Regions from separate parts of the Homo sapiens genome. Here region 2 is linked to region 1. The links come from fine-mapping of genetic effects on gene expression. A gene starts in region 1. The other region holds a variant in brackets. All regions are shown on one strand. Distances are from middle to middle. Region 1 holds the start of CCT5 (chaperonin containing TCP1 subunit 5). Region 2 overlaps CMBL (carboxymethylenebutenolidase homolog).

Region 1 (5,380 bases):
ACTTTTTGAGCAAAGTCACCATAATATTTGTGTTTTTAAGAAAGGCAACACAGGGGCAATGAGTCTCTTGATGAAATCATTCTATTTTCTGTCCCAGGTTTTGATGCCTGCAAGTCTTGCAACGTAACAAACATTTGCATGGGGAAATCAAGATCCATACCCATTGCTGGAGCTTTGGAAGAAGTTACTATGTACATCCAATATAGGATGTACAATATAGGAACTACATTGTTAGCTCCATTCAGGAAAAACAATTGATTCCTTTTTGCGATGGGGTCTCACTCTGTCGTCCAGGCTGGAGTGCAGTAGCACAATCACAGCTCACCACAGCCTTGACCTCTCAGGCTCAAACGATCCTCCCACTTCAGCCTCCCAGGTAGCTGGGACTACAGGCACATGCCACCACACCCAGCTAATTTTTTAAATTTTTTTCTTTAGAGACAGGGTCTCCCTATGTTGCCCAGGCTGGTCTCAAACTCCTGGGCTCAAGCAATTCTCTCGCCTCAGCCTCCTAAAGTGCCTCCATGCCAGGACCTGTATTGATTCTTATCAGTAAAAATCAGGCCCTGAATATTCAAAACTAAAATCAAGACTGTTTCTACAAATCCTTCTAACGGAACATGTTCAGACTCCCAGACTATCCTATATATAAATGGCAAGAACTTTCTTTCAGGTGTTCTTTGGAACAAGGAGCCATTCTATTAAATAATGGCTGCAGTGGCCACTGGCTACTTTCATTGAGCACTTAGTAGTCCATCCTTTAAAGTCAAACACAGAATGAGGTTAACTTCTACTGTGTCCGGGCCCTGCTTGCTTATTGACTTCTAATATTGGTTGAAAACTTCAATTTTTAGTGGCAGATTTGGATCAGCTGAAGCTAGAGGCAGTGACAGATGTACAATAAGGTACCCAAGGTTCTTATCCAAGTTCAAGCCAAAAGAAAAAGGCCAAGAAGAGAGAAGGAGCCTGTTAGGAATAGTAACTAGCCACGTGTTTAAAGCGGGCTTATATCAGAATGTCACAACTCATAAGGACTGTTCATTGTGCACTTGTATGTGCATACCTGTTTAATAACTACAGCATATGTTATGTCCCTTTAGCATATATTCTTATGTCCTTAAGAAGCCTTTCTTATACTAGTCTAATGTCATTTGTGTCCTTTTGACATACATGAGCTATTGATATTAGGAAAAATCCTCTCTCACTCCCCAGTGTTTTGACAGGGAATCAACTACACAGAGGATGCCATAGGACATTCTATTTTTCACAACAATCGAAGGAGCCAAATGAATTGCAGAAGTCACCATTTTTAATGAGGAAACACTGAATTGGCAAAGCTAACGTGAAATAAGACCTGACTCCAAAATCTAAAATGTCCTTGAAGAACACTTCAAGGTCTAGCGCGTAAGTATGCCAAGCATGAAGAGTTAACAGATCACCAACCATCCCATGACAGTCAGTCCTCCCTGTTTTTAGAGACAGAATCTCGCTCTGTCGCCCAGGATGGAGTGCAGTGGCGCGATTATAGCGCACTGTAAACTGAACTCCTGGGCTCCACCCATCCTCCTGCCTCAGCCCCAGAGTAGATGGGAACACAGTCGCCAAGTCTGTTCTTGAGTTTCAGGACAGGGTCAAATGTTATAGTGCATGTATTCATTTCAGCACTTATTGAGTGCCTAATAAAGTCTGGGAATAATACAACTTTATTAGTTAAGTCCCTGCCCATGGCAGTAGGGGAGAAGCAAGGATGGAAACCCTCAACAAATAAATCTAAACCTATCAAATATTAAGTCATGATCTTGGAGGGCGGGGAGGAAGGCAGCATAAGAGATTTAGAGGACAGCTGCGGTTGCCAAGATCTTTCTGAGGCAGCATAATACAGGGCTTAAGAGTGAGACCTGCCGGGCACCGCGGTGGCTCAGGCCCAACACTTGGGGAGACCTAGACGGGTACATCACTTGAGGTCAGCCGTTCGAGACCAGCCTGGCCACTACGGCGTTAACACCGTCTCTACTAAAAATACAAAAATTAGCGAGCGTGGTGGTTCTGTGCCTGTAGTCCCAGCTGCCTGGGAGGCTGAGGCACGAGAATCACTGGAACCCGGGAGGCGGAGGCTGCAGTGAGCCGAGACCGCGCCACTGCACTCCAGCCCGGGCTACAGTCTTGTCTCAAAAAAAAAAAAAAAAAAAAAGAGTGTGGGACCCATTGCATCAGGCTGTGTAACTGTTTCTTACTAGCTGTATACCAGTGGCAAGTTACTGAACCATTTGTGCAAAATGTTAATTTATTTACCAACACTGTGTTCAGCTTGCCAGGCACCGTTCTCCTTGAATCTCACAGCAGCCCTGTGAGTAGGCACTACTGTTACCACCGTCACTTTGCAGACAGGGAACCCGAGGGACAAAGAAGTTAAGGGATTTCCTCAAAGCCACAGCTAGGAAGAGCGGCAGAACTGCGATTCCAATCCATCAGTGTGCCTCCACTATCCCTATTCCTTAAGATCGTGCCAAAGGCTGAGTCACTTGCACTAAGTAGCCTAGAACAGTCTCTGGGGAAACGCGCCCGCCGACAAGGATCGCCAGAACCGGCGCGGGCACCGCGCGGCGACCAGGAGCTCTGGTCACCGAAGGCCAGGCTGGAGGCCAGAGCAGCCGCCCGCACCCGGTCACCGCCTCGACAGTGGAGACCTCAGCTGACCGCGAGCCCCCGGCCCGCCCGCACCCCTTCTCATGCCCCCAGGAACCCGCCAAGCCGCTCCAGCCTCACCTCCTCCTCCCTCCATCGCGAGATTTCCAACAGCGTTTTTAAAAAAAAAAAAAAAAAAAAAAAAAAAAAAAAAAAAACCGGAAATGGGTCCTACCATCTTCTCGGAGCCGGAGTGCGAAGAAATAAAGAAATAGTGCTTTAAGTCAATGAATTCCTCCTTGGGACCCACTATCGAGAAACTATCAGTGGTAACGTTTTAAAAAATGACAAATTCAATCTGCTCTTGACTTGTGTGTCCTAAGATTTCCACTAAGTGTCTTCAAACCTCCCCCTCCCCGGCTTCCTGGATAATAGAAGTTCCCGAAGGCCGCCGATTCCAGAAGATACTGTCTGGCGTGAAATTAGTCTCAGTAGAAACATAAGTCCCGCGCGTCTTGTGCTGCGCGTGCGCAAGCTTTTGGGCCCTCCCGAGAAAGGGAAGTGCATTCTCGCTTCCGTAGCGGTCTCCGCCGGTTGGGGGGAAGTAATTCCGGTTGTTGCACCATGGCGTCCATGGGGACCCTCGCCTTCGATGAATATGGGCGCCCTTTCCTCATCATCAAGGATCAGGACCGCAAGTCCCGTCTTATGGGACTTGAGGCCCTCAAGGTAATGGCACAGGGACCTGCTCGCGGTGGGCTAAGGGGAGGTGGCCGAGGCCGTGGCTCTGCGCCTGCGCGAGTTGAGGAGCGGCTCTGCCATGTGCTCCCCGGAAAGGTCGAGAATCTCCGTCTCCCTGCGGTCTCCGGCCGCTCAGCCCGCTTACTGAGCTCGGGAGACGCCGGCGCCTAATCCTGGGCTCGGAATGTGGGGGCCAGCCAGGCTGGGCCGCCAGCGCCCTTCGGAGCTGGGTGGGGCCGCTCAGTCCGGTCGCCCGCGGGAGCAAAGCGGGACCGCCTCCCCGCCCGGCTCCTCCAGCCTGACGGCCGCGTGGGACTGCGCTCCAGTGGGAGGGCGCCGGGGAGATGCTCTGTCACCTGTCGGTTAAGGCGCTGCTGCTTAACCTTTCGCTGGTCCACCCGCAACGGCCCTTCCGTTTTCTTTGTCACTCGTAAAGGTGTGGTCACTTAACAGGGTATTTCATTTCTGAGTGCTTTTTTGCCCACCCTTGAGGAAAAATAGCGAAGAGTGAAAAACGGACGCACATAACCGTAATACAAGGTGGTGTGCAGTGAGAAGGACAGCTACGGAGAGGGTGCACATAAGCGTGGTGCTGGAGGACAGCTTTAGATCGGGGTGAGAGGTAGCATTCTAGGGAGAGGAAACGGTAGAAGTAAAGGCTTGGGCAAGAATGCGCATGGCACGTTGTAGAATGGAAGAGCCATCCGGTTTTAATGGAGCACTGACTTCTTTAACTTACAATAGTTCCCGAAGGTGGAAGCTATTGAATGCCCAACATGGAAAATACGACGTTATCTTTGGGGAAGAAGGGGAGCCATTGAGGGGGTTTTGAGCAGAATTTCAGTAGAGCTGCACTTCAGGCAGCAAAGCTTGAGATAGACCGAAGGGAATAAGGAAGACCAGAGGGGTTAAAGAAACCAGGGCAGGGGTGCAGGTAAGAAACATCTGAGCACCAGACGTTGACAGAAAATGCAGAGGAAGGGACACTCCGAGAGGGCCTTCAGGGTTTGTTATAAAGTGAATTCATAATAGACCATTCCACTAGGTCTCTCAGGTGTCCCTGTTCACTTAGTGTCTTGGAGGTTTACTTACGCAAAGTTAGAAACAATACAGTTCCCCTATGGACTCTTTGTTTGACTTAGTGCTAGTTACACAACCTCGCGGAACCTCCTTTTCCAGGGGGAGGTGATAGGCCTCCGTCAAGCTGAAGACTTGACAGTGATATTAAATGGAGTGACTTAGAGGGGCTGCACAGTGGTTGATCCACGGTAGGCACTCAGTATTTGTTTCCTTTCTAGAAAGAAAAAGTTTCAAGCTAATTGTATTATGTATTCCATTTTATTTTCCACTTAACAGGGACCTGCAGAGAAAATAACATCCAATACACACACCTGGTGTAACAACATAACTAAAACTAGGTTGTTTTGCATCAGCCATTTTGTTCAAACTGCATGCATTTGTGCCCAGAAGTCGCACACTCTGAGACAGGGTTATTTTACAAAACTGGGGACTTGGGCCCAGAGCAGTTGAGAAATTGTTCTGAAGAGCAGTTGCTACTAAAGAGCATTACCATGGTCAGGGCCACCGCTGTCAGAGTCAAAGCCAGTGGTCTAGAGCAGCATTCTCAAGTTTGGCATATTGACATTCGAGGTCGGATCATTCTTTGCTGTGGGAGCTCATTTGGACAGTAACCTGGGTGTTTAAGTCTCTTAAAAGAGTTGGATGCTGTTGGTAGGCATCCTGTGAGTGTTGAGGCTCAGCAGTTTAGGGATATACACTTGCTCCCTGACCTCATAGAACGTCCAGCTAACTTGAAGAACCAAAATATATGGAAATTGAAGGCAACGGTAAAAGAAATGTATAGGCCAGGACGTGAACGTTTTAATGGTAATGGTCACAGTTCTTTCTCTCTGGTCATTTAGAGCCTTAAAGGTAATATGTATTTTGTTGAGATTCTTCACTTGTTTAACACTTAACTGTATAATATTTCACCTTAAAAATGCAGGCATTGACT
Region 2 (5,380 bases), 51 kb after region 1:
ATTATAAATCCCATTTCATGGTAACCAATTTAAAAAAAAAGGAAAGACAACTGCAGAAAACTGAATACTAAGTGGATATTTGATGAAATTGCAAATTATTGTGAATTTTGGCAGGGGAAGATGATGGCATTGCAGCCATGTGTTTTTGAGTCCTTGTCTTTCATAGATGCATCATGATATCATGATGTACCCACAGATGACATGACCAGAGGTCTGGGATTTACTTCAGAATAGCCCCATTTGGGCTGAGTGCGGTGGCTCACACCTGTAATCCCAGCACTCTGGGAGGCCAAGGCTGGTGGATCACCTGAGGTCAGGAGTTCGAGAGCAGCCTGGCCAACATGGCAAAACCCCGTTTCTACTAAAAATACAAAAATTAGCCAGGCATGGTGGTGAGCGCCTGTAATCCCAGCTACTCCGGAGGCTGAGGCATGAGAATCACTGGAATCCAGGAGGCAAAGGCTGCAGTCAGACGAGATCGCGCCACTGCACTCCAGCCTGGGCGACAGAGCAAGACTCCATCTCAAAAAACAAACAAACAAAAACCCAAAATAGCTCCATGTGGGGTAGGGTGGACAAGGTGTCCACGTGCTGATGGTGGTGCAGCTGGAGTGTCCTGTGTACTAATCTCTCTACTTTTATATATGCTTGAGATTTTCCATGACAAAAAGCTCTTAAAATTGCATTAATAAGATAGTAACTAAGATGAAAGATTAATAAGATAATGATTAACATTAATATCAAGATAAAAGTCTCCATAAACAAAGTGAGAAAACAAGATAGACTAGGAGAAGGTATTATTTTAGGAACAGAGGACTTAGTGTCTAGATAAAATATATAAAGAATTCTTATAAGTCACCAAGAAAAAGACAACCCAATAGAAAAATTCATATGAATGGGCAATTTACAAAAAAGTACACCTGAATGGCCCATAAACATATGAACAGATATTCAACCTCACTGTTCTTAAGGAAACTATAATAAAAACAAGAATGAAATACTATTTTCCATCTTGCAGATTGGCAAAAGTCTGTTAACACAGAGATGATGGTACACTTGTAGGGAAATGGGAGGGCATGTGAAATGATACAAACCCTGGAAGGAGTCTAGCAAAGTTAAAGAAGCAGATGCCCCGCACCCTAGATATCCCACCACTAGATGTTTCCCTAGAGAAATTCATGTCACATGTGGTGGGACATGGTGGCTCATGCCTGTAATCCCAGCACTTTGGGAGGCCAAGGCCGGGGGGATCATTTGAGCCCAGGAGTTCGAGACCATCCTGGGCAACATGGTAAAACCCCATCTCTCCAAAAAAAAAAAAAAGCAGAAAAATTAGCCAGGCATGGTGGTGTGTGCACCTGTGGTCCCAGCTACTCAGGAGGCTGAGGTGGAAGGATTGCTTGAGCCCAGGAGGTCAAGACTGCACCACTGCACTCCAGGCTTGGTGTTAAGAGTGAGACCCTATCTAAAAAAAAGAGAGAGAGAGAGAGAAATTTGCACATGCCCACACAGGCACATGCAGTGATTATGGAAAAATGTTCTTGGCACCACTAATATGATGACAACACCTGGAACCAATCTAATTGACCATCAACAGGAGAATGAATAAACTGTAATTTATTGATTGATGTAGGTTGAATTGTATTCCCCCAAAATACATGTTTAAGTCCTATCCCCCACTCCCCGTGCATGTGACCTTAACTAGACACAGGGTCCTTGCAGATGTCCTGTAGTTAAGATGAGGTCATACTGGAGTACAGTAGACCATAAATCCAATGACTGGTGTCCTTCTAAGGAGGGGAAAACGTGGACAAAGACACAACAGACGCACAGAAGAGAAGGCCGTGTGAAGATGGAGGTGGAGATGGGAAGGATGCACCTGCAAGCCAAGGATTGCTGGCCCCCCACCAGACGCTGGAATAGGCAAGGAAGGGCTCTCCTTTACAGGTTTCAGAAAGAGCAGAGCCCTGCTGACACTTTCAATTTGGACTCCTGGCCTCCAGAACTATGAGGCACTGTGTTGCTTTAAGTCACCCAGTATCTGGTAATGTTATGGCAGCCCTAGAAAACAAATACATTCATAAAAAGAATATTACACAACAGTTCGATGAACAGGCTGCACCTGTAATTTATCAATATAATAAATCTCCAGACCCGCATGGTGGCTCAGGCCTGTAATCCCAGCACTTTGAGAGGTCGAGGCATGGTCATAGCTTGAGGCCAGGAGTATGAGACCAGCATGAGCAACATAGGGAGACCCCGTCTCTACAAAAAAATTTTTTTAATTAGCCGGGCATGGTGGCATGCACCTGTAGTCCCAGCTACTCAGAAGACTGAAAGGAGGATCACTTGAACCCAAGAATTCAAGGCTGCAGTAAGCTATGATCATGCCACTACACTCCAGTCTGGGCAACAAAGAGAGACATTTTTATTTTTATTTTTATTTATTTATTTTTTATATATTTATTTATATATATTTATATTTTTTATATATTTATTTTTATTTAAAAATAGAAATACAAAACTTGAAAAATCTCAAAGACATAATGCTATGTAAAAAGACATAGCATTTTGATTCTAAATAACAACCAAAAAACATACATTTTGATGCTAAATAAATAACAA[C/T]CAAAAATATACATTTTATTCATAAATATACTGTAGGAAAAGTATCACGCATGAGAATGAATTATCACCATTAGGACAATTGGTTACCGGGAAGAGAGGGGAGAAAAAATGGAGATCGTGGGCTTTATTATGTTTTATTTCCCTAAAAAGTTTTGATTTGAAGTATATAGGGCAAAAGGGTATTATCTTTCAAATATGGGTGATGTGAAAGGGTGGCTGTTATATAATTCCCTTCACATTACTGAATATTCTTAGTGTTTCATAATTAGAAATAAAGTAATTAGATTTTGAGAAGAAAGAAATTAATAACTAGTTATCCAATCAAGGACAACTGGACTGTAGTTTTCTTGGTTTGGTTTTCATAAGCTACATTATAGAACTATAATTAGTAAGACTCAATAATTCAACATTGTCATTTGACACCATTTCAGAAAAACTCTCAAGCCATGTTTCCCTCTGCTCTCACAATACAGCGATCATCAACACCATGACCAAAGGTAAGGGGTGGGGGCGCGTGGGGCAGTGAGGGCTCAGTTCCAAGACTGCCCCACCCCTCAGACACAAGCAGCAAGTTCAGGCCTGTAGAGCTTTCTTTTTTTCTTTTTCTTTTCGGGTTTTTTTTTTTTTGGAGACGGAGTCTCGCTCTCTCACCCAGGCTGGATTGCAGTGCACGATCTCCGCTCACTGCAAACTCCGCCTCCCAGGTTCAAGCGATTCTCCTGCCTCAGCCTCCCAAGTAGCTGGGACTACAGGTGCCCGCCACTATGCCCGGCTAATTTTTATATTTTTAGTAGAGACGGGGTTTCACCATGTTCGCCAGGCTGGTCTGGGCTGACTTCTTATCTGGGCTGACTTCTTATCTGGGCTGTTTGTTGGCTATGAGGACCTAGGGATCACAGAAAATCCTGGCCATTCCAGGAAGCCTCTAATCTGAATGTTTTTACTTTATTTTCAGTTGACATCCATTTTGCAAAAGGAATGCTTACAGCCAGGCGAGCAGCCCTCTAGGCTGATCCTGCAAGGTTATTCTCCTACAGGAGACGCCCGTGTGTGTCGAAGGCTGGACTCCTGCCCAGACCCTCCACGTGGGCACAGCAGCCAGGCCACGCCTTGTGCCAGGGGCCAAGTCCACAATGGGCAGGGCGAACAGTTTCTACCCTGGCAAGTCTCAGGGAACATACCCTTGACTCTCAACTAACTGTACTATATTTTCTGTATATACCTTTCAGGATTTTAGCTTCCTCCTGCAAATGCACTGTAAACCAAAAATAAAATTCCAAGCATCCCAACTAACTGAATGGACCTCTCCTCTTGGCCAAGGCGATTCCAAAGAAACCTGTAAAACTAATTCAGGCCATGACAGGAAGGAGGGGCTAGGCTCAGTGGCTCATGCCTATAATTCAGCACATTGGAAGGCCAAGGCTGGTGGATCACTTGAGGCAAGGATCCAAGACCAGCCTGGCCAACATGGCAAAACCTTGTCTCTACTAAAAAAAAAAAAAAAAAATTAGCCAGGCATGGTGGTGCATACCTGTAATCCCAGCTACTTGGGCGGCTGAGGCAGGAGAATCGCTTGAACCCAGGAGGTTGCAGCGAGACTCTGTCTCAAAAAAAAAAAAAAGACAGGAAGGAGGAGTCCAACATACCTCATTATTCCCTCCTCCATTGAAGTTCAGGCACAAATGACCAGCATTAACATTCAAACAGAGGTCTCAAGACTGACGAAACAGACTTTTTGTAGAAATAAGGTATGAAATTCCAACCTGACTCAAATACAGCATCCAAGGATATAGACAGCAGGCCCTGAAACAAATCAAGTATTTTACCCCAAAATATTTTTGACATATTTTGAAAGGGCCCTGCAAAGCTATCTCTTGTAGGGGAAACTTACATTCTGTAGAGAATCCCCTTCCCTTTCCAGGTCTCTTTCTGATCCTGAAAAGATTACCTGAGAGTCTGGCAGCTTTTAAAGGTCTGAACAGAAAACATTTGCTATCTATTGCCTCTAAGGGTAGCCATCTATGAGACTTCACCTACATAATAAGAACTTTGGTCTCCCAAACCTCTTATCTTAACCCAGACCCTCCTTTCTATTGATTCCAGGTCTTTCATTATTAATTTAACTCTTTCAACCAAGCACCAATCAGAAAACCTTTGAATCCCCCTGTGACCTGTAAGCTACCACCCTGACCCTGCCATCCCCGATCTTTGAGTTGTCCCACCTTTCCAGACTGAACCAATGTATACCTCACATGTATTGATCGAGTTCCTATGTCTCCCTAAATGTATAAAACCAAGCTGTAACTCAGCCACCTTGGGCACATGTTCTCAGGCCCTCTGGGGGCTGTGTCATGGGTCATGGTCCTCACATTTGGCTCAGAATAAACCTCTTCAAACATTTTACAGAGTTTGACTTCCTTCTGTCAACAACACATGTATTTATTAAAAGATAATTTTCAGAAAGAAGTAAAACCATCACTCTTCAACAGATATAAAAACAAACAACATTGAGGATTGTACTCTACTTGAACGACAGGAAAAAACTAACAGATGTTCTAACAGGCTTGAAGGAAAATCAAAAGAGCACAAATGCAGCACTGGAAAGTGTAAACTAAAAACTCTAAGCCCCCAACCAACTGACTGGATCATCTCTTCACCAAGGAGACCCCAGAATAACCTTAAAAACTGAGTTATTGGCCATACAACTCAGTTATATAGTTATGGGTTGGGGGATCACACACCTCTCATTATCCGC

What was found. PIP is the estimated chance that this variant, and not a neighbour inherited with it, causes the effect.
Region 2: its variant is fine-mapped to the expression of CCT5 in whole blood (TOPMed, PIP 0.99).

Annotation. Positions count from the first base shown.
Region 1 is chr5:10,247,092-10,252,471 of GRCh38, forward strand. It overlaps CCT5 (chaperonin containing TCP1 subunit 5), which reads left to right and starts at 3,189. Exons shown (of 11, transcript NM_012073.5): 1 at 3,189-3,354. The coding sequence starts at 3,250. It overlaps ATPSCKMT (ATP synthase c subunit lysine N-methyltransferase), which reads right to left and starts at 2,797. Exons shown (of 5, transcript NM_199133.4): 1 at 2,767-2,797. The coding sequence starts at 2,782. RefSeq lists silencers at 2,567-2,686, 2,697-2,756, 3,507-3,576, 3,647-3,786, 4,117-4,339.
Region 2 is chr5:10,298,368-10,303,747 of GRCh38, forward strand. The region is part of intron 1 of CMBL (carboxymethylenebutenolidase homolog); the gene reads right to left. Among named protein-coding and RNA genes, the nearest start is that of CMBL, 6.8 kb to the right of the region's middle. RefSeq lists a silencer at 1,789-1,965. The variant C/T (reference allele first, on the strand shown) is at 2,626.